7 separate regions of the Homo sapiens genome follow, and all the other regions are linked to region 6. The links come from fine-mapping of genetic effects on gene expression. A gene starts in region 6. Each other region holds a variant in brackets. All regions are shown on one strand. Distances are from middle to middle.

Region 1 (4,095 bases), 110 kb after region 6:
GAAGAAGCCAGATCACTAAGATGGCCAGCTCACAACTGGAGCATGAGTAACCTCACTGCATTTGGGGAACCATTGAATGATTTCAAGTAGGGAAGTGACATCAGATTTTTGTTAGATTATTTCAGAGGAAGATGAACTGGGTGGGGAAGAGGTAAAACTTGAAGCTGTAGAACCAGTCAGAAGACATGTATAGTAGTTCAAGTGAAGGCCAGGCAGTGGTAGGAAAAATGAGAAGGAATATTAAGGAGACAGAATTGATTGCTGACTGGACGCTGAGGATGAGGAAGGAGTTGAAAGGGATGCCAAATTATTAATCAATGAATGGTGGTGCCCGGTACTGTGTGAAACCAAAATTTTTATCAAATCTAAATTTTTTTGATGATGGCTTTTTTTTCTTTTGCGCCTACCATGAGATGTCAATTAAGGATTTGAGATTATTAAAATTCAACTATATCTCAACCCCACCTGCCTAATAGATTATAAGACACTCTTAATTGTAAGATGGATCCAGATTTCAGAGAGGTTAAATTGTGAAAAATGAGCATTTTAGAGTTGATGAAATAGGGTCTTGGAAATAAGAACCCAGAGGGAACTCAATATCCAGTAGAGAAAGACATAAATAATTAAAATATGGTATTTTGAGTGCTTCCCATGTGCTAAGCACTGTGCTAATAAATGATAATGATACAGACATGAGCAAAACAGACACAGCCCCTTCCTTCATGGAGCTGCATTCTAACAGGGAAAACAGACATTAAGTAAAAAACTATTAAATTGAAGTTGTAATTAAGACCAAGAGGCAGGATTAGAGGGAACTGTGCTTGTGGACATAACTAGGGGATTTCTCCTAGTCTATGAGACCTCTGCAATGGCTTCCCTGAGACGGAAGGAAAAACAGGTGTTAGCTAGGCAAAGGGAGGTGCTGGAGGAGGGAACTGAGTTCTAGGTAGAGGGAACAACGTGATAAATGACATACCAAAGGTAAATACAGCGTAGAGAAAGTGAAAGTGCAAATTTTGAAATGACGCTAATTCCAGTTTTAACATGGTGATGTTGAGGTGTCTGTTTTCATAGCCAAAAGAGAAGCCCAATAGAGATTTAGATAGTCAGGTCTGTAGACCAAGATAAAAGGACAAAGACTTTTGTTTGGTACCTATTATATGCTAAATTCTGTCCCAGGAACTTCATATGTATATTATATCATTAATCCTCAGATAAGTCTGGATGGTAGGCAGTATCCCCATTTCACAGGCTGCAGGCACTGAGGCTTACAAAAGGTTGTATAGCCTGCCCATCATTATAGTTGGTAAGAGGCAGACTTGTGATTTGAATCCACATCTGTCTGACTTTGAAGCCCCTCTTCTTCCCCTAATGGTAAAGAGTATGAGCTGCACTCTCTTGGTGGTTTAAATCAGATCTCTACTGTTTCTTAGCCCTCAGTCTCAGTTTTCTCATCTGAAGAACAAGCATTAATAGTTATCTCAGAATTATTTTGAGGAATAAATGAGATAATCCATGTAAAGTGAGTAGGATAGTGCCTAGCGCATAGTATCTGCTCCACAAATGTTAGCTGTTGCTATTATGATATTTAATGTGAACACAGCTTTGGACCCTTTTAGTATTATCTAAAAAGAAATCAAGAAGTCAGAAGAGAAGGCTGGAGACAGAGTGCTGGGAAACACTAGCAAGTCTGAGGAGGAGGAAACTCAGAAAGAATTTTAAAATAACAATTTTTTTCAAATTTCAGTAACCTCCGCCTGTAAATAATTTTTTCTTCCACAAACTGTAGCAGTATTTCTTCCATTAATGTAGCAAAATGGTATATTCATTCAATTAAAATAGTTTTTTTAAATCTATATATCCATGTCTTTTTGTCTTAAGGGAAAGGGGTGGCTCATGATAAATTTCCTGCTAATGTGTAGGAAAATTAGTTTGGTTACCATGTTAATGTAAATGTAGCTAATATTTAAATTGCACAATAAGTTATTAGAATGTAACTTTTGGGCCAGGCACAGTGGCTCATGCCTGTAATCTCAGCACTTTGGGATCCCTTGAGCCCAGGAGTTTGAGACTAGTCTGGGTAATATAGTAAGACCTCGCCTCTACAAAAAAACTTAAAAAATTAGCCCGGTATGGTGGCATGTGCCTGTGGTCCTGGCTACTTGGGAGGCTGAGGTGGGAAGACTCCTTGAGCCACAGAGGCTGCAGTGAGCTGTAATTGCGCCACTGTACTCCAGCCCTGGGCAACAGAGTAAAACCCTGTCTCCAAAAAAAAAAAAAAAAAAAAAA[AT/T]TAAAAAAAACTTTTGAATGAATAGGAGTAATTCTATATTTTTAAAAAATGGGAAAATGGCTTTTTTTTCCCACAATGGGTTTGCCACCAGAACACAGGTGTTGTGAAAACTACCCCTAAAAGCCAAAATGGGAAAGGAAAAGACTCATATCAACATTGTCGTCATTGGACACGTAAATTCGGGCAAGTCCACCACTACTGGCCATCTGACCTACAAATGTGGTGGCATCGACAAAAGAACCATTGAAAAATTTGAGAAGGAGGCTGCTGAGATGGGAAAGGACTCCTTCAAGTATGCCTGGGTCTTGCATAAACTGAAAGCTGAGCGTGAACGTGGTATCACCATTGATATCTCCTTGTGGAAATTTGAGACCAGCAAGTACTATGTGACTATCATTGATGCCCCAGGACTCAGAGACTTCATCAAAAACATGATTACAGGGACATCTCAGGCTGTGCTGTCCTGATGGTTGCTGCTGGTGTTGGCGAATTTGAAACTGGTATCTCCAAGAATGGGCAGACCTGAGAGCATGCCCTTCTGGCTTACACACTGGGTGTGAAACAACTAATTGTTGGTGTTAACAAAATGGATTCCACTGAGCCACCCTACAGCCAGAAGAGAGAAGAGGAAATTGTTAAGGAAGTCAGCACTTACATTAAGAAAATTGGTTACAACCCTGACACAGTAGCATTTGTGCCAATTTCTGGTTGGAATGGTGACAACATGCTGGAGCCGAGTGCTAACATGCCTTGGCTCAAGGGATGGAAAGCCACCCGTAAGGATGGCAGTGCCAGCGGCACCATGCTGCTTGAGGCTCTGGACTGCATCCTACCACCAACTCATCCAACTGACAAGCCCTTGCGCCTGCCTCTCCAGGATGTCTACAAAATTGGTGGTATTGGTACTGTTCCTGTTGGCCGAGTGGAGACTGGTGTTCTCAAACCTGGTGTGGTGGTCACCTTTGCTCCAGTCAACATTACAACAGAAGTAAAATCTGTCGAAATGCACCATGAAGCTTTGAGTGAAGCTCTTCCTGGGGACAATGTGGGCTTCAATGTCAAGAATGTGTCTGTCAAGGATGTTCGTCGTGGCAACGTTGCTGGTGACAGCAAAAATGACCCACCAATGGAAACAGCTGACTTCATTGCTCAGGTAATTATCCTGAACCATCCAGGCCAAATAAGCGCTGGCTATGCCCCTATATTGGATTGCCACGCGGCTCACATTGCATGCAAGTTTGCTGAGCTGAAGGAAAAGATTGATCGCGGTTCTGGTAAAAAGCTGGAAGATGGCCCTAAATTCTTGAAGTCTGGTGATGCTGCCATTGTTGATATGGTTCCTGGCAAGCCCATTGTTGAGAGCTTCTCAGACTATCCACCTTTGGGTCATTTTGCTGTTCGTGATATGAGACAGACAGTTGCGGTGGGTGTCATCAAAGCAGTGGACAAGAAGGCTGCTGGAGGTGGCAAGGTCACGAAGTCTGCCCAGACAGCTCAGAAGGCTAAATGAATATTATCCCTAATACCTGCCACCCAACTCTTAATCAGTGGTGGAAGAATGGTCTCAGAACTGTTTGTTTCAATTGGCCATTTAAGTTTAGTAGTGAAAGACTGGTTAATGATAACAATGCATCGTAAAACCTTCAGAAGGAAAGGAGAATGTTTTGTGGACCACTTTGGTTTTCTTTTTTGCATGTGGTAGTTTTAAGTTATTAGTTTTTAAAATCAGTACTTTTTAATGGAAACAACTTGACCAAAAATTTGTCACAGAATTTTGAGACCTGTTAAAAAAGTTTAATGAGAAA
Region 2 (4,095 bases), 220 kb before region 6:
AAAGAAAGAAAGAAAGAAAGAAAGAAAGAAAGAAAGAAAGAAAAGAAAGAAAAGTAAAGAGAGAAAGAAAGAAAGAAAGAAAGAAAGAAAGAAAGAAAGAGAGAAAGAAAGAAAGAAAGAAAAGTAAAGAAAGGAAGAAAGAAAAGCTCAGAACTGGATGGAATCTCAGCTAAATTCTACCACACTTATAAAGAAGAATTAATACCAATCCTCATTAAACTATTCCAAAAAATTGAAGAAGAGGGAACTTTCCATAACTTACTGTATAAGAATAGTGTTACTCTAATATGAAAACCAGAAAAGGACACAGCAAAAAATATAACTATAGGTCAATATCCCTGATGAACATACACATAAAAACCCTCAAGAAAATACTAGCAAACCAATCTAACAGCACATTACCAAAATAGTATACTATTACGAAGTAGGATTTACAGCAGGGATGCAAGTATGGTTCAACATACAAATCAATAAACATAATTTATCTCATCAATAGAATAAAGGACAAAAGCCGTATGATCACCTCGATATATACAGAAAAGGCCTCTGATAAAATTCAACATCCCATCACAATAAAAATTCTCAACACACTAGGAATAGAAAAAGCATACCCAAAATGATAAAGGTCATATATGGCAAACCCACAGCTAACATCATATTGAATGGGGAAGAACTGAAAGCTTTCCTCTGAGATCTGGAACAAGACAAGGATGTCTGCTTTCACCATTCCTACTCAACATATCACTACAAGTTCTAGCCAGAGCAATCAGGCAAGAGAAAGAAATAAAGGGCATCTAAATTAGAAAAGAGGAATTCAAATTGTCCTGTTTTGCTGACGATATGATCTTATCTAGAAAAATCTTAAGACTCCAACAAAAAAACTGCTAGATTTGATAAATAAGTTCATTAAAGTTGTAGGATACAAAATCAATAAAGAATAATCAGTAGTGCTTCTATACACCAATAATGAACTTATTGAGAAAGAAACTAAGAAAGCAATCCTATTTACAATAACTACAAAAAATAAAATACTTAGGAATAAATTTAACCAAGGAGATGAAAGATCTCTACAAGGAAATCTATGAAACACTAAGTAAAGAAACTTAGGAAGATACAAACAAATTGGAAGACATCCCATGTTCAGGAATTAGAAGAATATCATTAAAATGACCATAGTGCTGAAAGTAATCTACATGTTCAATGCCACCTCTATCAAAAATATAAATGTCATTTTTCACAGAATCAGAAAAAAAAAATTCATTCATATGGAACCAAAAAAGGGCCAGAATAGTCCCTCTCCCTCTCCCTCTCCCTCTCCCTCCCCCTCCCCCTCCCCCTACCCTTTGCACGGTCTCCCTCTGATGCCCAGCCGAGGCTGGACTGTACTGCTGCCATCTCGACTCACTGCAACCTCCCTGCCTGATTCTCTTGCCTCAGCCTGCCAAGTGCCTGGGATTGCAGGGGCACACCGCCACACCTGACTGGTTTTCTTTTTTTTGGTGGAGACAGGGTTTTGCTGTGCTGGCCAGGCTGGTCTCCAGCTCCTGACTGCAAGTGATCTGACAGCCTTGGCCTCCCGAGGTGCTGGGATTGCAGACGGAGTCTCGCTCACTCAGTGCTCAATGTTGCCCAGGCTGGAGTGCAGTGGTGTGATCTCGGCTCGCTACAACCTCCACCTCCCAGCCGCCTGCCTTGGCCTCCCAAAGTGCCGAGATTGCAGCCTCTGCCCGGCCGCCACCCCATCTAGGAAGTGAGGAGCGTCTCTGCCTGGCCGCTCATCGTCTGGGATGTGAGGAACCCCTCCGCCCGGCTGCCCAGTCTGGGAAGTGAGGAGTGCCTCTTCCCGGCCGTCATCCCATCTAGGAAGTGAGGAGCGTCTCTGCCCGGCCGCCCATCGTCTGGGATGTGGGGAGCACCTCTGGCCTGCCGCCCCATCTGAGATGTGAAGAGTGCCTCTGCCCGGCCGTGACCCTGTCTGGGAACTGAGGAGTGTCTCTGCCCTGCCACCACCCCGTCTGGGAGGTGAGGAGCGTCTCTGACCAGCCACCCCATCTGGGAAGTGAGGAGCCCCTCTGCCCAGCAGCCGCCCCATCTGGGAAATGAGGAGCATCTCTGCCCAGCAGCTGCCCCATCTGGGAGGTGGGGGGCAGCCCCCGCCCGGCCAGCCGCCCTGTCCGGGAAGTGGGGGGCAGCCCCCGCCCAGCCAGCCACCCCCTCTGGGAGGTGAGGGGTTGCCTCTGCCCGGCTGCCCCATCTGGGAAGTGAGGAGCCCCTCTGCCCGGCC[G/A]CCACCCCATCTGGGAGGTGTACCCAATAGCTCATTGAGAACATGATGACAATGGTGGTTTTGTCGAATAGAAAGGGGGGAAATGTGGGGAAAAGAAAGAGAGATTAGATTGTTACTGTGTCTGTGTAGAAAGAAGTAGACATAGGAGACTCCATTTTGTTCTGTACTAAGAAAAATTCTTCTGCCTTGGGATGCTGTTAATCTATAACCTTACCCCCAACCCCATGCTCTCTGAAACATGTGCTGTGTCCACTAAGGGTTAAATGGATTAAGGGCAGTGCAAGATGTGCTTTGTTAAACAGACGCTTGAAGGCAGCATACTCGTTAAGAGTCATCACCACTCCCTAATCTCAAGTACCCAGGGACACAAACACTGTGGAAGGCGGCAGGGCCCTCTGCCTAGGAAAACCAGAGACCTTTGTTCACATGTTTATCTGCTGAGCTTCCCTCCACTGTTGTCCTATGACCCTGCCAAATCCCCCTCTCCGAGAAACACCCAAGAACGATCAATAAATACTAAAAAAAAAAAAAAAAAAAAAAGAAAGAAAGAAAGAAAAAGAGCCAGAATAGCCAAAACCATTCTGAGCAAAAAGACCACAGCTGAAGGCATCATCTATCTCACTTCAAAATGTATTAGAAAGCTATAATAACAGGATTGTTAAGGATATAAAAACAGACACATAGACCAGTGAAACGGAATAATGACACCAGAATTAAATTCACTTATTTATAGCCAACTGATTTTCAATAAAGGTGCCAAGAACATACACTGGGGAAAGGAAATTCTTCAATAAATAGTTTTGGGAAAATTTGAAATTCACGATATGCATAAGAATAGACTGAACACCTATGTCTCCCCATACACAAAAATCATCTGAAGATGGATTAAAGACTTAAATGTAAGACCTGAAACAATAAAACTGCTAGAAAAAAAAATAAAGAGAAAAAACAAAACATCAGTCTAGGCAAAGATTTCATGGCTAAGACCTCAAAAGCACAGACAACCACAACAAATAGGCAAATAGGATTATATTAAACTAAAAAGCTTCTGCACAGCAAAAGAAACTATCAACAGAGTGAAGATACAACTTACAGAATGAGAGAAAAATATTTGCAAACTATTCATCTGAAAAGGGATTAATATCCAGCATATACAAGAAATTCAAACAACTCCTCCATTTAAAAAGAAATCCCATTAAAAAGTGGGCTAATGATATGAATAGACATTTCTCAAAATAATACATACAAATGGCCAACAGGTATATGAAAAAAATGTTCCACATCACTAATCATCAGAGAAATGCAAATCGAAACCACAATGAGATATTATCCTACCCCAGTTAGAATAGCACTATTAAAAATACTAAAAATAACAGATGCTGGTGAGGTTGTGGAGAAGGAACTCTTATACACTGTTGTGGGGAAGTGAATTAGCACAACCACAATGAAAAACAGTATGGAGGTTCCTCAAAAACCTAAAAATGAAACTACCATATGATTCATTCATCCCACTACTGGGTATATATCCAAAGAAAAAGAAATTATTACGTCAAAGAGACATCTGCATTCCCATGTTTATTGCTGCACTGTTCACAGTAGCCAAGATGTGGAATCAATCTAGGTGTCCAACAACAGATGAATGGACTATTTAGGGGCTTGGAATCATAGGCGGACATGCCCCTAACTTTGCAAGATAGGCAATTTAGTACCATGGAAAGAAAATCAGATGTGGACTCAGGAAACTAAAATTCTTGTCTTTTCTGCCAAAAACTAGCTATACAACTTTAAAGTAAGTTACTTAATTAGTTTTC
Region 3 (4,088 bases), 200 kb after region 6:
CTAAGTGAATCTTTTATATCATTTTTATCTTTAGTCTGCAAATCCTTTCTCCAATAATTGCATGTGCCTTTCTTTACTCTGTTTCTATTTTGCTGTGTTCTATATATAGTACCAGTGCCTTTCAAATTGCATTTCTAATCAGCTCCCAGGTGATGCCATTGTTGTGGCTCTGGGAGCCACACTTTGAGTAGTGAGATCCTATACAACACATCCAAGTAAGAGGAAGCTGTTCACGTCTCTACAATAGCAAGATCCTTTCCTGAAAACCCAAAATCTGCCAGGCGCAGTGGATCACGCCTGTAATCCAGCACTTGGGGAGACAAAGGTGGGAGGATAGCCTGAGTCCAGGAGTTCGAGACCTGCCTGAGCAATAGAGTGAGACCCCACTCTCCAACAATAACAAAACCCAGAATCTAACTTTTGTATCACAAATTTGATGTGTAGTGCCAACAGTTCTTGAGCACTAAGAGATCTTTACAGCCCTCTAGTGACTAAAACTGTATCATAGACAGAACCAAAACAGGGACTCACATTCCTGGAAAATCATCCATACACTTAATACTGGGAATAATAATGACAATAATCCAAAACTAATAGAAATAACACCAGAATAAGGCCAGGTGCAGTGGCTCATGCCTATAATCCTAGCACTTTGGGAGGCTGAGGTGGGAGGATTGCTTGAGGCTAGGAGTTTGAGACCAGCCTGGGTAACATACAACACCCTGTTTCTGCAAAAAATTTTAAAAATTAGCCAGGCATAGTGGGGTGCACCTGTAGTCCGAGCTACTTGGGCAGCTAAGGCAGGAGGATCACTTGAGCCTGGGCATTCAAGGCTGCGGTGAGCCGTGATCACACCATTGCGCTCCAGCCTGGGCAACAGAACAAGACGGTCTCCCAAAAAAAAAAAAAAGAAAAGAAATAACACCATAATAAGACAAATAGGAATGCTTTTGATCAGATACTAAAAACATCTTTACAATATTACATATAGTGAACAAATGATTTATCATATTGACTGACCCCTTATTACTTCAATGTGCAGGGATGGTACCTATGAAAAGCACTGTGTAATTGTAGATAATTTGGGACATAAGAGCTTGACCAAAAACTGAAAATACTATTCCTAGAAAAAAAGCAAAAATATTTTGGACATTAAAAGCCTTAAAACAAGATAAAAATGAAACACTGATAAGATCGGAGCTTAGTTCAGTCCAAGAAACTTTTTTAGCACTAATACCAGACAATGTGCTATGTGGTGGGGGGTTACAAAGATGCCCTGTGGGAGCTTACAGTCAAAAGACAGTCATATAGACTCTTAATGTCATACATGGTAAAGACTAAGATATAGGAAAGCACAAGGTACTGTGGGACCTCAGATTCAAATGGGGAAATGACAAAATTGGAAGAAAGTAGACAACTGAGAGGTTCAGCAGTCCAGAAGTCAATTAATAAGGTCCTGAACTAAGAGTGGTAACAAGGAGAAAGAGGAGACAGATCTGAAAAGTGTTAAGGAAAATACAATCTACAGGAGTTTGACTGGCCATGGGAGTGCAGAAGATGGAATTACACTTGGATAACAGTACAAAGTGATTAAACGAGATGAGAAAAGGAAAACAGTAGATTTAAAGTGGCAGGAGATGATGTCTTCAGTTGCGGCTCTGTTGAGTTTGGGGTGCCTGTGGGATATCCAAGTGCATATTCAATGGCAGGTGGATACACATCAGAATATTTGGGTAGAGCTAAAAAAACACATTTTGAAGTTACTGACATAGTAAAAATTTTAAACATGAGATGTGGAAAGAAAAGAGCAGTAGGTTAGGGATGGCACTTTCAGAATGCTAACTATTGAGGAGAGGGCAAAGGAGGACGCATTCAAGAGGCAGAGAAAGTAATTTCTCTTCTTTTTTTTTGAGATGGAGTCCCTCTCTGTCGCCCAGGCTGGAGTGCAGTGGCACAATCTCGGCTCACTGCAACCTCCACCTCCCGGGTTCAAGCAATTCTCTGTCTCAGCCTCCTGAGTAACTGGAATTACTGGCGTCTGCCACCATGCCCGGCTAATTTTTTTGTATTTTTAGTAGAGATGGGGTTTCACCATCTTGGCCAGGCTGGTCTTGAACTTCTGACCTCGTGATCCTCCTGCCT[T/C]GGCCTCCCAAAGTGCTGGGATTACAGGCATGAGCCACTGTGCCCAGCTGTAATTTCTCATTATTCAGAATATTAGAAGAGACTAGTAACTAGGAATATGGAAATTTTCAAGGAAGGAATGGGTAAGTGTTAAATACAGCAGAGAGGTCCAATGAGACAATGTTAGAAAAATGTCTGCTCTGCCTGGGCACAAAGTGAGGTCCCATCTCTACAAAAAAATAAAGAAATTAGGTAGGCATGGTGGTGTGCACCGGTGGTCCCAGCAACACGGGAGGCTGAGGCAAGAGGATCACTTGACGCCAGGAGGTGAAGGCTGCAGTTAGCTGTGTTTGTACTACTGCACTCCAGCACTCCAGCTTGGGTGACAGAGCAAGATCTTATCTAAGGAAAAAAAGAAAAAAAAGTCTGCTAATTGCTAATTGTAGGCGCCCTGAGGGCAGGTACTATGACTTATTAATTCTTATATACTCGGTGTCTGTTACAAAGACTGATACAATGCAGGCAGCACCCTATAAATGCTTCTAGAATTTTACTGATGTGACAATCACTTGAATTAGTAAAATAACACACTTCTACGATTCAAAAAGAAACATGTCGGTACTAGATATTGTAGACATTTTTCCCAAGGGAGCTTTTTCTTGACCCAACTCTGCCTAAATTTTTAGTAGAAAAATATTAATAAAGGAAATACAGAAAATACCTTTCCAACAGAAAGAATAAAAAGCAAAGAAAAAGGATTTAAAAACGCAAAAAAAAGAGAGAATAAATGAATACAAACCAAAAGATTAGTGTAGCAATGTCAATAACAGAAAAATATGATTTAAGCAAAAAGTTATAGTAGAAATAGAGGAATCTTAACCGAAAGATAAAAAAGTTCACTTCACAGAAAAGCTATCTCTAGGGCCCAGACTCCTGTGAGGCAAGAGAGATGATCGAGGCGTGAAAATGCAGTCAGATTTTGTTTTTATTTAAAATTGCAGCATTTTACTAATCATAGACTTTTTTGCATTAATTTTTATTTTTAAAAATATTGCATCCAAATATTGCTTATCTTCATTACGGAGTTCTTTTGGCGGTCCCTTAAATTCTGCACCTGAGGCTCGTGCCTCATTTTAATTCTGGCTGTGGACCAGGAGGGTACTTGGGCGTCTGAAAACATAACCCCAAGTGTTGTATCACATAAGTAGACAGAAATGCAAGAAAAAAAAAAACTGGCATAATCCCAATAACAGTGGGAGATTTTAACATACCCGCATCAAAAGCTGGCCGATCAATTAAAAAAAAAAAAACTAGTAAGGGTTAGGGAATGCGTGCACAATACAACGTTTTCTCCTGCAGCTCTGTGAAGGGCAGCCCGCGGTAGGCTAGGCCTGGTCCTGGGCGCCCCAGCCGGCTCCCCCGGGTCCAGGCGTGCGCCTGCGGGCGACGTGCGCGTCTGGGCATCCGGCCGTCACGCGCTGCCTGGGACTCCACCCTACCTACCCTTCGCGTAGTACTTGTTATACTTTGGCAGCTTCTTCACGTCGGTCCTCTCCGCGCGCGGGTAGGAACCGTCCACGGCCTTAAAGAAGCCTCCTCACCAGGTCAGTGGCGCCAAGCAGGTTGCGTACGCGCAGAGGCGGGAAGGGCGGCTGGACGTCGCCCAGGTAAACGACGTCCCGCGCCACCCCTTTCTTGTTGCTGTCGCTCTGCACTTCCCGCGCTCTTCCTTGCTCTCTGCTTCGGCTACCGCCCGCTGTTTTCCACTTCAGTCTCTCCTGGTCCACGGCAGCCACGACTACAGATACCAGTAGCGCGACAGCCTCAAAGCGCCATAACGTCGTGCTTTTCTTTTTTCGTTCTTTCTTTCTTTCTTTCTTTTTTTCTCGTGCTTTGTTTCCTCTGATTTTCCTTTTCCGGGTTTTTAGTTGAACACACGTTTTTTTCGTGTATGTGTTTTAAATAAA
Region 4 (4,000 bases), 56 kb before region 6:
CTTCACCTTTCCAAATTCCCCAGGTAATTTAGGCTATTTAATTTTAAAACCCCTTAGCTTGTTTTGAATTTGGGCTATCAAATCCTTTGTTTTGCAATATAGCCTAAGAAACAAAAATATTTTTTACTATGAAAAGATACTTCAGCCTTCCAAATTACAATGAGATTTTCAGTTAAATCATAAGAAAAATCCTGAGTTGTAAAATAAGCGAGTTTTTTAAAATATTATAATAAAAGAATGAAGGTAGAGTAAGTATCTGATATGGTTTGGCTCTGAGTCCCTACCCAAATCTCATGTCGAATTGTAATCCCCACATGCCACGGGGGGACCTGGTGGAAGGTGATGGATTATGGGGGCTGACTTCCGCCTTGCTGTTCTTATGCTAGTGAGTTCTCACGAGATCTGGTGCTTTAAAAGTGTGTGGCACATCCCCCTTCACTCTCTCCCCTTCTCCGCTATGGTAAGATGTGCTTGCTTCCCATTCACCTTCTGCCATGATTGTAAGCTTCCTGTGGCCTCACAGTCATGCTTCCTGTTAAGCCTGTGGAGCTGTGAGTCAATTAAACCTCTTTACTTCATAAATTACCCAGTCTGAGGTAGTTCTTTACAGCAGTGTGAGAATGGACTAATACAGATCCCTTTCTTGTCTAAATTATTTATCAGTGTAAAATCACGTTCTGCTTTCATTTAGTTTCATTATTATTTAGAAAATAACATCCATAATTTGAAAAAAAAAGTTCTACTCAAACCTTTAATTATAATATTTGCAGAACATCTTCTTGCCATCAAGAAGAGAACTTGAAACAAACAGAAAAGCTAGGAAGTATTAGTGTTGTTACTTTTTTCTGTTCTTTTAAAAAACCATCATGCTGACCACAAAACTTCTAAGGTAGAAACTCTCACAGATGACCAACAGGAGTGTAAATTAGAACAACCTTTCCAGAAACATGGCTATAAGTATAATGAGCCTATAAATTCTAGGAATCTATCTTAAGACAAAAATCTGAAATGTCAAAGATATGTACAAAGAGAAATCAAAATCAAACAACTTCATATGTATAGCATTAAGGGCAAATTAAATAAATTTTGTATATCCATATGATGGATCACGATAAAGTCTCTTAAAATAATATTTTAAAAGAATTTTTAATGACAAAAAGTCAACAATATAGTATATAAGTTTTTTTAAATGTAGGACAATATACAACACGATCAGACAAGTAAATACACAGATATGCCATACATAAGGAAATAAACCAAAATCTTACCTGTTTATCTCCAGATGGAGAGAGGCACTAGAAGATTTTCATCTTTCTATTTAATTTTCCTAATTATTTACAGTTGGGTACCTTAAAGGCAGTCTTGGAAATTTATGCAAATGAAATACTCTGCTATGTCTGCTGAAGAGAATTCAAAGCTACCATACTCTTTTTTTTTTCTTTTGAGATGGAGTCTCGCTATGTCACCCAGGCTGGAGTACAGTGGCATGATCTCAGTCACTGCAACCTCTGCCTCCTGGGTTCAAGCAATTCTCTGCCTCAGCCTACCAAGTAGCTGGGATTACAGGCACCCACCACCACGCCTGGCTAATTTTTGTATTTTTAGTAGAGACAGGGTTTTACTATCTTGGGCAGGCTGGTCTTGAACTCCTGAGCTCGTGATCCACCTGCCTTGGCCTCCTAAAGTGCTGGGATTACAGG[T/C]GTGAGCTACCATGCCCAGCCTACAATATTCATTTTTATGGGTAATAAAAGAAATGACATGCACATCCATGTTTTCAGGAAGCCATTTCCTTTTGTTTCATGTATGTGTTGTTTCTTACCACACACATGATGTATGACAGGATAGCACCAGACGAGCCTATGAGTGCACCCACGATGGTCAGCAGATTGTTGTTGAGCAGGAAGCCCTCTGCACACAGGGCCCAGCCTGAGTAGCTGTTCAGCACAGTGATAACGACGGGCATGTCAGCACCCCCAATAGCAGCTGTCAAAGTCACACCCTAGAACAACAATCAAATCAGAACTCAAAATTAATAACATAAAAATAAAACCTCTGACATTTAACATTTTGCTCCTTAATTATTCTAGTTTTCCCATTAATATATTTACATATAAGTTCCACTTCCGGTAATAAGTGTCTCCCATCTGACCAACACTTCCACAGGTATAACAACTATAAACACTGAGCCACCCACCCCCCTAAAAAAAAATCCCTACATTTTAAAAAAACACTTTTCAGTGATGAAAAGCAGGCAGAAACTGGAGAAGCGTCTACATTTGGAAAAATACAATGACACTAAGTGAATTTCCCAGTTTTTATGGCTTTAGACTGAGGGCAATCCCCTGTTGGTACCAGTTAAGGAAATTATAAAATATAAGCCCACAGTCTTACTGACTTGAAGATCCTGAAGATAGCATTTGAGATGACTAAGGCAGCTGGAAAGTAATAAGGGGAATCCCACAAAGAAGCAGGCTAGAGGGAAGGAGTCCCAGTTTCTGTTTATAAATTCTACTCAAATCTCTGGATGACTCTTGAACTACACATATGTGAGACAGACTCCAAGCAATCCTGTTAAGGATAAAATAACAATAGATTTCAGCTGCCCCCCACCACCCACCATAAGGGAGTCAAAATTTGGAATTTGAGTTTAGCCAAGTTAGCTGGCTACAAAAACACATAAATAAATAATAATAATCAATACCCTTTGAAGGAATATAACATAACATCCAAAATGTCTATAATGTATCATTAACAATGTCCGTGATACAACTCGAAATTACTAAACACATGAAAGGAAAAAGCTTTTTGCTTTTTATTTCACATGTTTTTACCTTTTTTTGTTTGTTACAATGAGAGCATATTCATGTATTACTCATTTAAGCCAAAAGCAATAAAATAAATTCAAAAAATACTTTGTCTTAGTCAGACATTCTCATAGAACCAATAAATCCTTTAAATATCATAGTCACTGCTTCCCAAAAACAACAATTCTTAAAGTTTTAGATTTGTATATCTTTTTTTCTTTCTTTTTTTTTGAGACAGAGTCTTGCTTTGTCACCCAGGCTGGAGTGCAATAGCATGATCTCGGCTCACTGCAACCTCCGCCTCCCAGGTTCAAGCGATTCTCCTGCCTCAGTCTCCCGAGCAGCTGGGAATACAGGCGCAGACTACCACACCCGGCTTATTTTTGTATTTTTAGTAGAGACGGGGTTTCACCATGCTGGCCAGGCTAGTCACAAACTCCTGACCTCAGGTGATCCACCCACCTCGGCCTCCCAAAGTGCTGGGATTACAGTCATGAGCCACCTCACCCAATCACATTTGTATATCTTTTATTTTGAGACTTCATCAACCTATTCTGCTTTATTAGATTAAAAATATCAAAATTATTTTTCTTTTGTTTAAAACAAAAACCAGTGCAATAAGCCAGAATAAAATTAGACCATGAGTGTGAATATAAAGATGAGATTTTAATTTACTTTTCAGTGTTCTAAAATTTCTGTGTTAAAATCATGACCTAACTGCCATGATCACACAAAAATAAGTATCATTTTTACACTATAAATTAGGTGTTTCTCAATCAAGGAGCCAGTAAGTATTTCATAAGCAATTGCTATGTGTCTAACTTTGTGTTAGTTACTGTAGATAATTTTTTTAACTTAAATATAAACCTTGTCTACGGATTACACACTGAAAGAACATGAGTAACAGTGAATAACAGTAAATAGCGCTGCATAAAACAGCATCATACATTGATATAAGATGCCAGACTGTCACATAGACAACTAAAAACTACTGTGTGTTTCAATACACTAAATATAAAAATTGCAGAGAAAGAAGAAAGCCAAACCTATCATAAAAGCCTTCACTGAATACTCTCACTGAGCATACAGGGTTTTTTAACTGCATTTCATTTTATACTTATTTGATTTCGTGTCATATCTTCCAATGATGTAAGAGCAACTGGTGGGCAGAGACTATCTTACTTGTATTGTATAAA
Region 5 (4,095 bases), 130 kb after region 6:
CCTTTGCTATTGTAAACAGTGCCACAATAAACATACGTGTGCATGAGTCTTTATAGTAGAATGATTTATAACCCTTTGGGTATATACCCAGGAATGGGATTGCTGGATCAAATGGTATTTCTAGTTCTAGATCCTTGAGGAATCGCCACACTGTCTTCCACATTGGTTGAACTAATTTACACTCCCACCAACAGTGTAAAAGCGTTCCTATTTCTCCACATCCTCTCCAGCATCTGTTGTTTCCTGACTTTTTAATGATCGCCATTCTAACTGGCGTGAGATGTGGTTTTGATTTGCATATCTCTAATGACCAGTGATGATGAGCCTTTTTTCATTTTTTTTTTTTTTTTTTTTGAGACAGAGTTTTGCTCTTGTTGCCCGGGCTGGAGTGCAATGGCGTGATCTTGGCTCACCACAACCTCTGCCTGCTGGATTCAAGCAATTCTCCTGCCTCATCCTCCCGAGTAGCCGGGATTACAAGCATGCACCACCACGCTTGGCTAATTTTGTATTTTTAGTAGAGATGGGATTTCTCCGTGTTGGTCAGGCTGGTCTCGAACTCCCGACCTCAGGTGATCCACCTGCCTCAGCCTCCCAAAGTGCTGGGATTACAGGCGTGAGCACCACGCCTGGCAAATGTCTTCTTTTGAGAAGTGTCTGTTCATATCCTTCACCCACTTTTTGATGGGGTTGTTTGCTTTTTTCTTGTAAATTGGTTTCTCTGTAGATTCTGGATATTAGCCCTTTTTCAGTTGGATAGATTGCAAAAAATTTTCTCCCAGTCTGTAGGTGGCCTGTTCGCTCTGATGATCGTTTCTTTTGCTGTGTAGAAGCTCTTTCGTTTAATTAGATCTCATTTGTCTATTTTGGCTTTTGTTGCCATTGCTTTTGGTAACAAAAGACGAAGTCTTTGCCCATGCCTGTGTCCTAAATTGCCTAGGTTTTCTTCTTGGGTTTTTATGGTTTTAGGTCTTACGTTTAAGTCTTTAATCCATCTTGAGTTAATTTTTGTATAAGGTGTAAGGAAGGGATCCAGTTTCAGCTTTCTGCATATGGCTAGCCAGTTTTCCCAACACCATTTATTAACTAGGAATTCCTTTCCCCATTGCTTTTTTTTGTCAGATTTGTCAAAGATCAGATGGTTGTAGATGTGTGGTGTTATTTCTCAGGCCTCTGTTCTGTTCCATTGATCTATATATCTGTTTTGGTACCAGTACCATGCTGTTTTTGTTACTGTAGCCTTGTAGTATAGATTGAAGTCAGGTCACGTGATGCCTCCACCTTTGTTCCTTTTGCTTAGGATTGTCTTGGCTATTTATGCATGCTGTTTTTTGGTTCCATGTGAAATTTAAAGTTGTTTTTTCCAATTTTGTGAAGGAAGTCAATGGTAGCTTGATGAGGATAGCATTGAATCTGTAAATTACTTTGGGCAGTATGGCCATTTTCATGATATTCATTCTTCCTATCCATGAGCATGGAATGTTTTTCCATTTGTTTGTGTCCTCTCTTATTTCCTTGATCAGTGAGTGGTTTGTAGCTCTCCTTGAAGAGGTCCTTCATATCCCTTGTAAGTTGTATTCCTAGGTATTTTATTCTCCTTGTAGCAATTGTGAATGGGAGTTCACTCATGATTTGGCTCTCTGTTTGTCTGTTATTGGTGTATAGGAATGCTTGTGATTTTTGCGCATTGATTTTGTATCCTGAGACTTTGCTGAAGTTGCTTATCAGCTTAAGGAGATTTTGGGCTGAGACGATGGGGTTTTCTAATTATACAATCATGTCATCTGCAAACAGAGACAATTTGACTTCCTCTTTCCCTAATTGAATACCCTTTATTTCTTTCTCTTGCCTGATTGCCCTGGCCAGAACTATGTTGAATGTACAATTAAGTTATTATTCACTGTAGTTACCCTGTTGTGCTATCAAGTACTAGGTCTTACTCATTCTTTCTATTTTTTTTTTTTTTTTTTTTTTGTGACACGGAGTCTCGCTCTGTAGTCCAGGCTGGAGTGCAGTGGCGTGATCTCGTCTTGCTGCAACCTCCGCCTCCTGGGTTCGAGTGATTCTCCTGCCTCAGCCTCCTGAGTAGCTGGGATTACAGGTGCACGCCACCACACCCGGCTAATTTTTGTATTTTTTGTAGAGACAGGGTTTCACTGTGGTGATCAGGCTGGTCTTGAACTCCTGACCTTGTGATCCGCCCACTTCGGCCTCCTGAAGTGCTGGGATTACAGGTGTGAGCCACCG[T/C]GCCCGGCCTTCTGTTTTTTTAGTACCCATAAACCATCCCCACCTCCCCCTGCTGACCCCCCACCACCCTTCACAGCCTCTGGTAATGATCCTTCTACTCTCTATGTCCACGAGTTCAATTGTTTTGATATTTAGATCCCACAAATAAGTGAGAATATGTGATATTTGTGTTTCTGTGTCTGGCTTATTTCACTTAGCAAAATGTTCTCCAGTTCCATCCATGTTGTTGCAAATAACTGGATCTCATTCTTTCTTATGGCTGAATAGTAGTCCATTGTGAATATGCACCATATTTTCTTTATCCATTCATATGTTGATAGACCCTTAGGTTGCTTCCACATCTTAGCTATTGTAAACAATGCTGCAACAAACATAGGAGTGTAGATATCTCTTTGATATACTGATTTCCTTTCTTTTCGGTATATACCCAGCAGTGGGATTGCTGGATCATATGGTAGTTCAATTTTTAGTTTTTTGAGGAACGTTCAAATTGTTCTCCATAGTGGCTGTACTAATTTACATTCCCACCAAGAGAGTACAAGGTTTCCCTTTTCTGCACATCCTCTTCATCATTTGTTATTGCCTGTCTTTTGGATATAAGCCATTTTAACTGGGGGAGATGATACCTCATTATAGTTTTGATTTGCATTTCTCTGATGATCAAAAATACTGAGCACCTTTACATATGCCTGTTTGCCATTTCTATGTCTTCATTTGAGAAATGTCTATTCAAATATTTTGCCCATTTTTTATTAGATTATTGTATTTTTTTTCCTATAGAGCAGTTTGAGCACTTACGTATTTTGGTTATTATTCCTTTGTCAGATGGGTAATTTGCAAATATTTTTTCCCGTTCTCTGTGTTTTTTTCTTCACTTTACTGATTGTATCCTTTGTGCAGAAGCATTTTAACCTGATGTGATCCCATTTGTCCATTTTTGTTTTGGTTACCTGTGCTTGAGGGATATTGGTCAAGAAATTTTTGCCCACATCAATGTCGTGGAGATTTTCCCCAATGTTTTCTTGTAGTAGTTTAATAGTTTGAAGTATAGATTTAAGTTTTTAATCCATTTTGATTTGATTTTTGTATATGGTGTGAGATAGGGGTCTACTTTCATTCTTCTGCATATAGATATCTAGTTTTCCCATTACCATTTGTTGAATAGACTGTCTTTTCCCCAGTGTATGTTCTTGGCACCTTTGTCAAAAATTAGTTCGCTATAGGTGTGCAGATTTGTTTCTTGGTACTCTTTTCTGTTTCATTGGCTGATGTGTCTGTTTTTATGTCAGAACCATGCTGTTTTGGTTACTATAGCTCTGTAGTATAATTTGAAATCAGGTAATGTGATTCTTCCAGTTTTGTTCTTTTTGCTTAGGATAGCTTTGGGTATTCTGGGCCTTTTGTGGGTCCATATAAATTTTAGGATTTTTTTTTTTTCTGTTTCTGTGAAGAATGTCATTAGTATTTTGATAGGGATTGCATTGAATCTATAGATTGCTTTGGGTATTATGGACATTTTAACAATATTGATTCCTCCAGTCCATGAACATGGATAATTTTTCAATTTTTTGGTGTCCTCTTCAATTTCTTTCTTCACTGTTTTATACTTTCCATTATAGAAATCTTTCACTTCTTTGGTTAATTCCTAGGTATTTAATTTTATGTGTGGCTATTATAAGTGGAATTACTTTAAAAATTTCTGTTTCACATTGTTCAATATTGTCATATTGAAATGCTAGTGACTTTTGTATGTTGCTTTTGTATCCTGCAACTTTACTGAAGTTGTTTATCTTCTCTCTTTTATCTTCCCTCTTTTTTTCTTAGTCTGGCTAAAGTTTTGCCAATTTT
Region 6 (4,000 bases):
GTTCCTGTGGCTTTGAAGCAATAAGAAAAAAACTTTATAACTCAAAATTAGGGGAAAAAAGCACAACTTTTTTTTTTTTTTTTTTTTTTTTTTTTTGAGACGGAGTCTCGCTCTGTCGCCCAGGCCGGACTGCGGACTGCAGTGGCGCAATCTCGGCTCACTGCAAGCTCCGCTTCCCGGGTTCACGCCATTCTCCTGCCTCAGCCTCCCGAGTAGCTGGGACTACAGGCGCCCGCCACCGCGCCCGGCTAATTTTTTGTATTTTTAGTAGAGACGGGGTTTCACCTTGTTAGCCAGGATGGTCTCGATCTCCTGACCTCATGATCCACCCGCCTCGGCCTCCCAAAGTGCTGGGATTACAGGCGTGAGCCACCGCGCCCGGCCCAAAAGCACAACTTTTTAAGCATTGCTTTCATATGTATGTTTAATGTAACTTATATGGGTTATTTCCCCTATTAGATATTAAAATCCTTGAGGGAAAGCACCCAACCTAAAGAGGGAGGATACCACAGATATTTAAGAGAGTCAGCTCTGGATCTGCGGATTGGAAGCCCCACTCTGCAACTTATTGGCTGTGTGACCTTGGGAAGTCACTTAACTTCCCTGTACTTAATTTCCTCATCTTTAAAATGGGGAATAATAGCACCCACCCAGGGTGGTGGCTCACGCCTATAATGCCATCTCTTTGGGAGGCTAGTGGGGAGGACTGCTTGAGGCCAAGAATTCAAGACTAGCCTGGCCAACACAGTGAGACCCCCATTGCTAAAAAAAAAAAATTAATTAGCAGGGCATGGTGGTGCAAGCCTGAAGTCCCAGCTACTTGGGAGTCTGAGGTGGGAGAATCACTTGAGCCCAGGAGTTCCAGGCTGCAGTAAGCCGTGATTGTGCCACTGTACTCCAGCTTGGACAACAGAGCGAGACTTGAAAAAATAAAATAACAGCACCTACCTCTCAGGGTTGTTGCCAGGACTGAGAATATCCTTATCAGCTGTTATATTCACTTTGGTATTACTCTCCCCCAGTGCTTTGCACAACACAGAGGAAGTCAGTATTTTTGACTGAATGAATAGGGCTAGGTGACCTTAAGCCTAAGTACCTATTGAGCACATTTTCCAAGGATTTTCGGAAAATTTCCTTTGAAAAGGAAATGTTTGTGTAGCCTTGTGGAAAACTGATTCTATCACCAAGGTAAGCAGCCTAAGCGCACCTGCTGGAAAGAAGGCAATCCTAAACTGTCTGTTAATAAAAAGTCAAGGTTTACAAATAAAAGGGGTGCAATGAAGAAAAGGGGCACACTTTAAATAAGAAGAGTAGGTAGGCACCTAAGCCCCACGCGCTTCTCCGAATAAGTCTGTCCTACAAGACTCCTGACAAACAGACCACCTAAGGACTGGCCGGCGCCACAGGGTGAATAAAGGACACCGGCAACCATAAACAAGTCACGCTTTTAAAAGCGAGACATACCAGCAAGGACACAATACCCTACTGAGCCAGCTTCGGCTGGCAGGCGCCGTGACCTCACCCAAAGCCACTGGTGTCACGGCTACTGCCACCGGTGCCGTCCCTTGCTCGGCAACTAACTGCCACCCGCTGGCATCTGCACGAGACCGCTATTTATAACCTCCCTAGGAAGCCGATTGGCCACGGCTGCAAATAGTCATTCCGGCTGTTGAGTTTGAACTAGCTCTGCCCAGGTCGCCCTCTCCGCTGTCTCTTCCTCCTCACCAGCCTAGGCCCCAGAAACTTGTACCCACCACCGCCAGACCGCCCCAACTCACACTCACAATTTGTGCTCGCAATCTCCTATGTCCCCAGCCGGACACCCTCTCCGAACTCCCTCAAGGGTCAAGCATACCTCAAGGGCATCCAGCTGCCACCTCTCTGGATGAACCGCCCATCGAAAGTCCTCTATGACCTCCCTCTCCACCACCCCCGATCTTGAGGGCCGAAATGACCCCGTACGACTCTCGCTGTCCCCCAAAGCTGCAAATATCTGCACCTGCACAGCTGCCGCCTCATTCCCTGCCCTCTTCGGGGACCCAGTTCCCAAATCCACCAGCCCACTCCCTTCGACATCGCCCCAGCAGGAGACGAGAAAGGGACACCAAGAGGCACGGTGCTTCTTCCCCACCTAAGCCTGCGGCCTGCGGACACCCCAATGCACCCTGCGCCCGGGACACCGCCGACCCCGCCCCGCTTTGCTCTTTGACAGGTCTCTCTCCCGGCGAGGGCCGTGGTCTTCAGGAAAGGCCCGAGCCCCTTTCCCAGCTGCGCCCTAGGCGCGCGCCCCGGCTGCCCGCACCCGCCAGTGCCGTCGCGCTCACCTGGGCCGGGAGGCTGACAGCCTTGGGCTGTGCCCTGAGGGCCGCGAGAGGACGTCGCGCTGGCAGACCCGGGCTTGGGCCCCGCGGCGCTGCGCCTCCAACCCGGAAGAACAGCCCCAACTCCGCGGCGGCGGGCGGCCACGTGACTGCAGCTCCGCTCCCACCTCGGCCCGCGCCCCTTCCCCGCCCCAGCTTTCTTCCCGCCAGGCCCCCTCCACCCGATCGCCGCGCGCTCTCCGAACCAAAAGGCGACCTCACGAAATGCCCCTTTGAGCTCAAAGGCTAGTTACCCCCAGGGGCCCTTCCACTCTCGGGGACAGGCGAAACCTCTTTGTCTCTGCCTCGGCCTGCGGCCCCCAGCCCAGCCTCCGCGCTTTCCCTCCGCCAGTCCTTGTCAATCAAACCTGGTGCCAAACGCGGCAGCTGAAGTTTTCAGGGACACATTTGCTTCTCCCCTTGAAGAACCAGTTACAAAGCGTGATGTCCTCTCTGGGGTCCCATCAGAACAAAGAAACAGGTAATATAACTCCACTCCGGGTACCTGCCTTTCCTCCAGCTCGCTAGGAAAAATCAGAACTTCTGTAACAGAGAGGACCCAAGGGAAAGGGGCAGGCGGAGAGGGGTTGGTGAAGGGCGGGAATGGGGGGCGTTGATTTTCCATTCTGGCAGGAGAGGTGGAGTTAAATTCCTCAGAAACGATGTCCAGGCTTGAAAAGTAACACACATCTGCGTGCTTGTCTTCCAACATCAGAGCCAGCCTAGAGGAAGCTGGCTAGTGTCACTGCTAGTACGAATATCCCCGAGGCTGGAAAGCATCTGGGTGGAGGTTGTGAGCTTTCCAGACCAGGCCTCGGCTGTTTTTCTAAAACTATTAACCGTAATGACCTAGTCGTTCTTTTCACACAGTTCTGTTACTTATTCTGCAGGTGTATTCTGACTAAAAGTGGGAGGAATAAAAAATAGAGTGTAAAATGGTTCACTTGCCCAAAACTTAATCATCATGAAGTGTCAGTAACGTCATTTATTTCTATTAATTGAAATTTTGATACAAGAAAAATAATTATGAATCTAAAAGGTATAAGCAGAACAGGTATTCCATAACTTTAAAAAGAAATGAGCCGCAGGGAAACCCTTAGTTTGAGAACTTGTCTTGTGATTAACCTACACAGAAGGTCATTCAACTAATGGATTCCCACTGCAGTCCAAACTCACAGACAGGAAATGACACAGCCCCATGTTTTAAAATAATAATGAGCCGTGGTAAGTGTGACCATAGGGACGGTTTCCAGATACTGAAGGTACAATGAAGTGAGATTAGTAATGATCCCACTTAGTAAGGATTTTAAACTAAGTTATTGATTTAAAACTTTTTGTAGGGGTCAGGAGTTGCTGCTTTGTCTTTTAGGGATTAATAATTCGTGGTTCCCAACTGGGGACAATTTAGTTCCGAGGGATATTTGGCAATGTCTAGAGACATTTTGGTTGTCACAATTGGAGAGGGGACCTATCTAATGGGTTGGGGCCAGGGATATTACTGAACACCTCACACTACACAGCCCCTCACGACGAAGCATTATCCAGCCCCAAATGTCAATAGTGCTGAGGCTGAAAAATCCTGGCTTAAATTAATGCTCAGTACATTATTTAATTTTGACTTGCTTATAAATTTATATCAC
Region 7 (4,095 bases), 190 kb before region 6:
TGAGTAGATTGCAAAAATTTTCTCCCATTCTGTAGGTTAACTGTTCACTGTGATGGTAGTTTCTTTTTCTCTGCAGAAGCTCTTTAGTTTGATGAGATCCCATTTGTCAATTTTGGCTTTTGTTGCCATTGCTTTTGGTATTTTAGACATGAAGTCCTTGCCCATGTCTATGTCCTGAATGGTATTGCCTAGGTTTTCTTCTAGGGTTTTTATGGTTTTACATCTAACATTTAAGTCTTTAATCCATCTTGAATTAATTTTTGTATAAGGTGTAACGAAGGGATCCAGCTTTAGCTTTCTACATATGGCTAGCCAGTTTTCCCAGCACCATTTATTAAATAGGGAATCCTTTCCCCATTTCTTGTTTTTGTCAGGTTTGTCAAAGATCAGATATTTGTAGATATGCGGCATTATTTCTGAGGGCTTTGTTCTGTTCCATTGGTCTATATCTCTGTTTTGGTACCAGTACCATGCTGTTTTGGTTACTGTAGCCTTGTAGTATAGTTTGAAGTCAGGTAGCGTGATGCCTCTAGCTTTGTTCTTTCGGCTTAGGATTGACTTGGCAATGTGGGCTCTTTTTTGGTTCCATATGAACTTTAAAGTAGTTTTTTCCAATTCTGTGAAGAAAGTCATTGGTAGCTTGATGGGGATGGCATTGAATCTATAAATTACCTTGGACAGTATGGCCATTTTCACGATATTGATTCTTCCTACCCATGAGCATGGAATGTTCTTCCATTTGTTTGTAACCTCTTTTTTTCATTGAGCAGTGGTTTGTAGTTCTCTGTGAAGAGACCCTTCATGTCCCTTGTAAGTTGGATTCCTAGGTATTTTATTCTCTTTGAAGCAATTGTGAATGGGAGTTCACTCATGATTTGGCTCTCTGTTTGTTTGTTATTGGTGTATAAGAATGCTTGTGATTTTTGCACATTGATTTTGTGTTCAGAGACTTTGCTGAAGTTGCTTATCAGCTTAAGGAGATTTTGGGCTGAGACGATGGGGTTTTCTAGATATACAATCATGTCATCTGCAAACAGGGACAATTTGACTTCCTCTTTTCCTAATTGAATGCCCTTTATTTCCTTCTCCTGCCTGATTGCCCTGGCCAAAACTTCCAACACTATGTCGAATAGGAGTGGTGAGAGAGGACATCCCTGTCCTGTGGCAGTTTTCAAAGGGAATGCTTCCAGTTTTTGCCCATTCAGTATGATATTGGCTGTGGGATTGTCATAGATAGCTCTTATTATTTTGAGATACATCCCATCAATACCTAATTTATTGAGAGTTTTTAGCATGGAGGGTTGTTGAATTTTGTCAAATGCCTTTTCTGCATCTATTGAGATAATTGCGTGGTTTTTGTTATTGTTTCTGTTTATATGCTGGATTACGTTTCTTGATTTGCGTATGTTGAACCAGCCTTGACTCCCAGAGATGAAGCCCACTTGATCACGGTGGATAAGCTTTTTGATGGGCTGCTGGATTCAGTTTGCCAGTATTTTATTGACGATTTTTGCATCGATGTTCATCAGGGATATTGGTCTAAAATTCTCTTTTTTTGTTGTGTCTCTGCCAGGCTTTGGTATCAGTATGATGCTGGCCTCATAAAATCAGTTAGGGAGGATTCCTTCTTTTTCTATTGATTGGAATAGTTTCAGAAGGAATAGTACCAGCTGCTCCTTGTACCTCTGGTAGAATTTGGCTGTAAATCCATGTGGTCCTGGACTTTTTTGGTTGGTAAGCTATTAATTATTGCCTCAATTTCAGAGCCTGTTATTGTTCTATTCAGGGATTCAGCTTCTTCCTAGTTTAGTCTTGGGAGGGTGTATGCATCAAGGAATTTATCCATTTCTTCTAGGTTTTCTAGTTAACTTGGTTAGAGGTGTTTAAAGCATTCTCTGATGGTAGTTTGTATTTCTGTGGGATTGGTGGTGATATCCCCTTTATCATTTTTTATTGCGTCTATCTGATTCTTCTCTCTTTTCTTCTTTATTAGTCTTGCTA[G/A]CGGTCTATCAATTTTGTTGATCTTTTCAAGAAAACCAGCTAATGGATTCATTGATTTTTTGAAGGGTTTTTTGTGTCTCTATTTCCTTCAGTTCTGCTCTGATATTAGTTATTTCTTGCCTTCTGCTAGCTTTTGAATGTGTTTGCTCTTGCTTCTCTAGTTCTTTTAATTGGGATGTGAGGGTGTCAATTTTAGATCTTTCCTGTTTCTCTTGTGGGCATTTAGTGCTATAAATTTCTCTCACACACTGCTTTAAATGTGTCCCAGAGATTCTGGTATGTTGTGTCTTTGTTCTCATTGGTTTCAGAGAACATCTTTAATTCTGCCTTCATTTTGTTATGTACCCAGTAGTCACTCAGAAGCAGGTTGTTCAGTTTCCATGTAGTTGAGCAGTTTTTGAGTGAGTTTCTTAATCCTGAGTTCTAGTTTGATTGCACTGTGGTCTGAGAGACAGTTTGTTATAATTTCTGTTCTTTTACATTTGCTGAGGAGTGCTTTACTTCCAACAATGAGGTCAATTTTGGAATAAGTGCGATGTGGTGTTGAGAAGAATGCATATTCTGTTGATTTGTGGTGGAGAGTTCTGGAGATGTGTATTAGGTCTGCTTGGTGCAGAGCTGAGTTCAGTTCCTGGATATCCTTGCTAACTTTCTGTCTTGTTGATCTGTCTAATGTTGACAGTGGAGTGTTAAAGTCTCCCATTGTTATGGCGTGGGAGTCTATGTCTCTTTGTAGGTCTCTAAGGACTTGCTTTATGAATCTGCGTGCTCCTGTATTGGGTGCATATATATTTAGGATAGTTAGCTCTTCATGTTGAATTGATCCCTTTACCATTATGTAATGGCCTTCTTTGTCTCTTTTGATCTTTGTTGGTTTAAAGTCTGTTTTATCAGAGACTAGGATTGCAACAACTGCCTTTTTTTGTTTTCCATTTGCATGGTAGATCTTCCTCCATCCCTTTATTTTGAGCCTATGTGTGTCTCTGCACGTGAGATGGGTTTCCTGAATAAAATGGGTCTTGACTCTTTATCCAATTTGCCAGTCTGTGTCTTTTAATTGGAGCATTTAGCCCATTTACATTAAAAGTTAACATTGTTATGTGTGAATTTGATCCTGTCATTATGATGTTAGCTGGTTATTTTGCTCCTTAGTTGATGCAGTTTCTTCCTAGCCTCGATGTTCTTTACAATTTGGCATGATTTTGCAGTGGCTGGTACCATTGTTCCTTTCCATGTTTAGGGCTTCCTTCAGAAGCTCTTTTATGGGAGGCCTGGTGGTGACAAAATCTCTCAGCATTTGCTTCTCTGTAAAGGATTTTATTCTCCTTCACTTATGAAGCTTAGTTTGGCTGGATATGAAATTCTAGGTTGAAAATTCTTTTCCTTAAGAATGTTGAATATTGGCCCCCACTCTCTTCTGGCTTGTAGAGTTTCTACCGAGAGATCAGCTGTTAGTCTGATGGACTTCCCTTTGTGGGTAACCCGACCTTTCTCTCTTGCTGCCCTTAACATTTTTTCTTTCATTTCAACTTTGGTGAATCTGACAATTATGTGTCTTGGAGTTGCTCTTCTCGAGGAGTATCTTTGTGGTGTTCTCTGTATTTCCTGAATTTGAATATTGGCCTGCCTTGCTAGATTGGGGAATTTCTCCTGGATAATATCTTGAAGAGTGTTTTCCAACTTGGTTCCATTCTCCCCATCACTTTCAGGTACACCAATCAGACATAGATTTGGTCTTTTCACATGGTCCCATATTTCTTGGAGGCTTTGTTCATTTCTTTTTATTCTTTTTTCTCTAAACTTCTCTTCTCACTTCATTTCATTCATTTGATCTTCCATCACTGATACCCTTTCTTCCAGTTGATTGAATTGGCTACTGAGGCTTGTGCATTTGTCATAGTTCTCATGCCATGGTTTTCAGCTCCATCAGGTCCTCTAAGGACTTCTCTGCATTGGTTATTCTAGTTAGCCATTCATCTAATTTTTTTTCAAGGTTTTTAACCTCTTTGCCATGGGTTGGAACTTCCTCCTTTAGCTCGGAGTAGTTTGATCATCTGGAGCCTTCTTCTCTCAACTCGTCAAAGTCATTCTCCA

The links.
Region 1: its variant is fine-mapped to the expression of NNT in whole blood (INTERVAL, PIP above 0.99). The same link has a PIP of 0.9 or more in monocytes.
Region 2: its variant is fine-mapped to the expression of NNT in lung (TOPMed, PIP 0.99).
Region 3: its variant is fine-mapped to the expression of NNT in whole blood (TOPMed, PIP above 0.99).
Region 4: its variant is fine-mapped to the expression of NNT in whole blood (TOPMed, PIP above 0.99).
Region 5: its variant is fine-mapped to the expression of NNT in blood mononuclear cells (TOPMed, PIP above 0.99).
Region 7: its variant is fine-mapped to the expression of NNT in whole blood (INTERVAL, PIP above 0.99).

Annotation. Positions count from the first base shown.
Region 1 is chr5:43,494,778-43,498,872 of GRCh38, reverse strand. All of the region lies in intron 6 of C5orf34 (chromosome 5 open reading frame 34), which reads left to right. All of the region lies in intron 2 of C5orf34-AS1 (C5orf34 antisense RNA 1), which reads right to left. It also overlaps the pseudogene EEF1A1P19. Among named protein-coding and RNA genes, the nearest start is that of C5orf34-AS1, 13 kb to the right of the region's middle. The variant AT/T (reference allele first, on the strand shown) is at 2,290.
Region 2 is chr5:43,822,605-43,826,699 of GRCh38, reverse strand. No RefSeq gene overlaps it. Among named protein-coding and RNA genes, the nearest start is that of NNT-AS1, 220 kb to the right of the region's middle. The variant G/A (reference allele first, on the strand shown) is at 2,285.
Region 3 is chr5:43,396,672-43,400,759 of GRCh38, reverse strand. All of the region lies in intron 1 of CCL28 (C-C motif chemokine ligand 28), which reads left to right. Among named protein-coding and RNA genes, the nearest start is that of CCL28, 14 kb to the left of the region's middle. RefSeq lists silencers at 3,442-3,531, 3,582-3,641. The variant T/C (reference allele first, on the strand shown) is at 2,143.
Region 4 is chr5:43,657,170-43,661,169 of GRCh38, reverse strand. NNT (nicotinamide nucleotide transhydrogenase) reads right to left here. Exons shown (of 22, transcript NM_182977.3): 17 at 1,820-1,999. Among named protein-coding and RNA genes, the nearest start is that of NNT-AS1, 56 kb to the right of the region's middle. The variant T/C (reference allele first, on the strand shown) is at 1,701.
Region 5 is chr5:43,471,019-43,475,113 of GRCh38, reverse strand. The region is part of intron 1 of TMEM267 (transmembrane protein 267); the gene reads left to right. Among named protein-coding and RNA genes, the nearest start is that of TMEM267, 11 kb to the left of the region's middle. The variant T/C (reference allele first, on the strand shown) is at 2,248.
Region 6 is chr5:43,601,619-43,605,618 of GRCh38, reverse strand. It overlaps NNT (nicotinamide nucleotide transhydrogenase), which reads right to left and starts at 2,439. Exons shown (of 22, transcript NM_182977.3): 1 at 2,325-2,439. NNT-AS1 (NNT antisense RNA 1) reads left to right here and starts at 2,389. Exons shown (of 3, transcript NR_073113.1): 1 at 2,389-2,841. RefSeq lists silencers at 2,179-2,398, 2,519-2,608, 2,872-3,091.
Region 7 is chr5:43,792,770-43,796,864 of GRCh38, reverse strand. No RefSeq gene overlaps it. Among named protein-coding and RNA genes, the nearest start is that of NNT-AS1, 190 kb to the right of the region's middle. The variant G/A (reference allele first, on the strand shown) is at 2,002.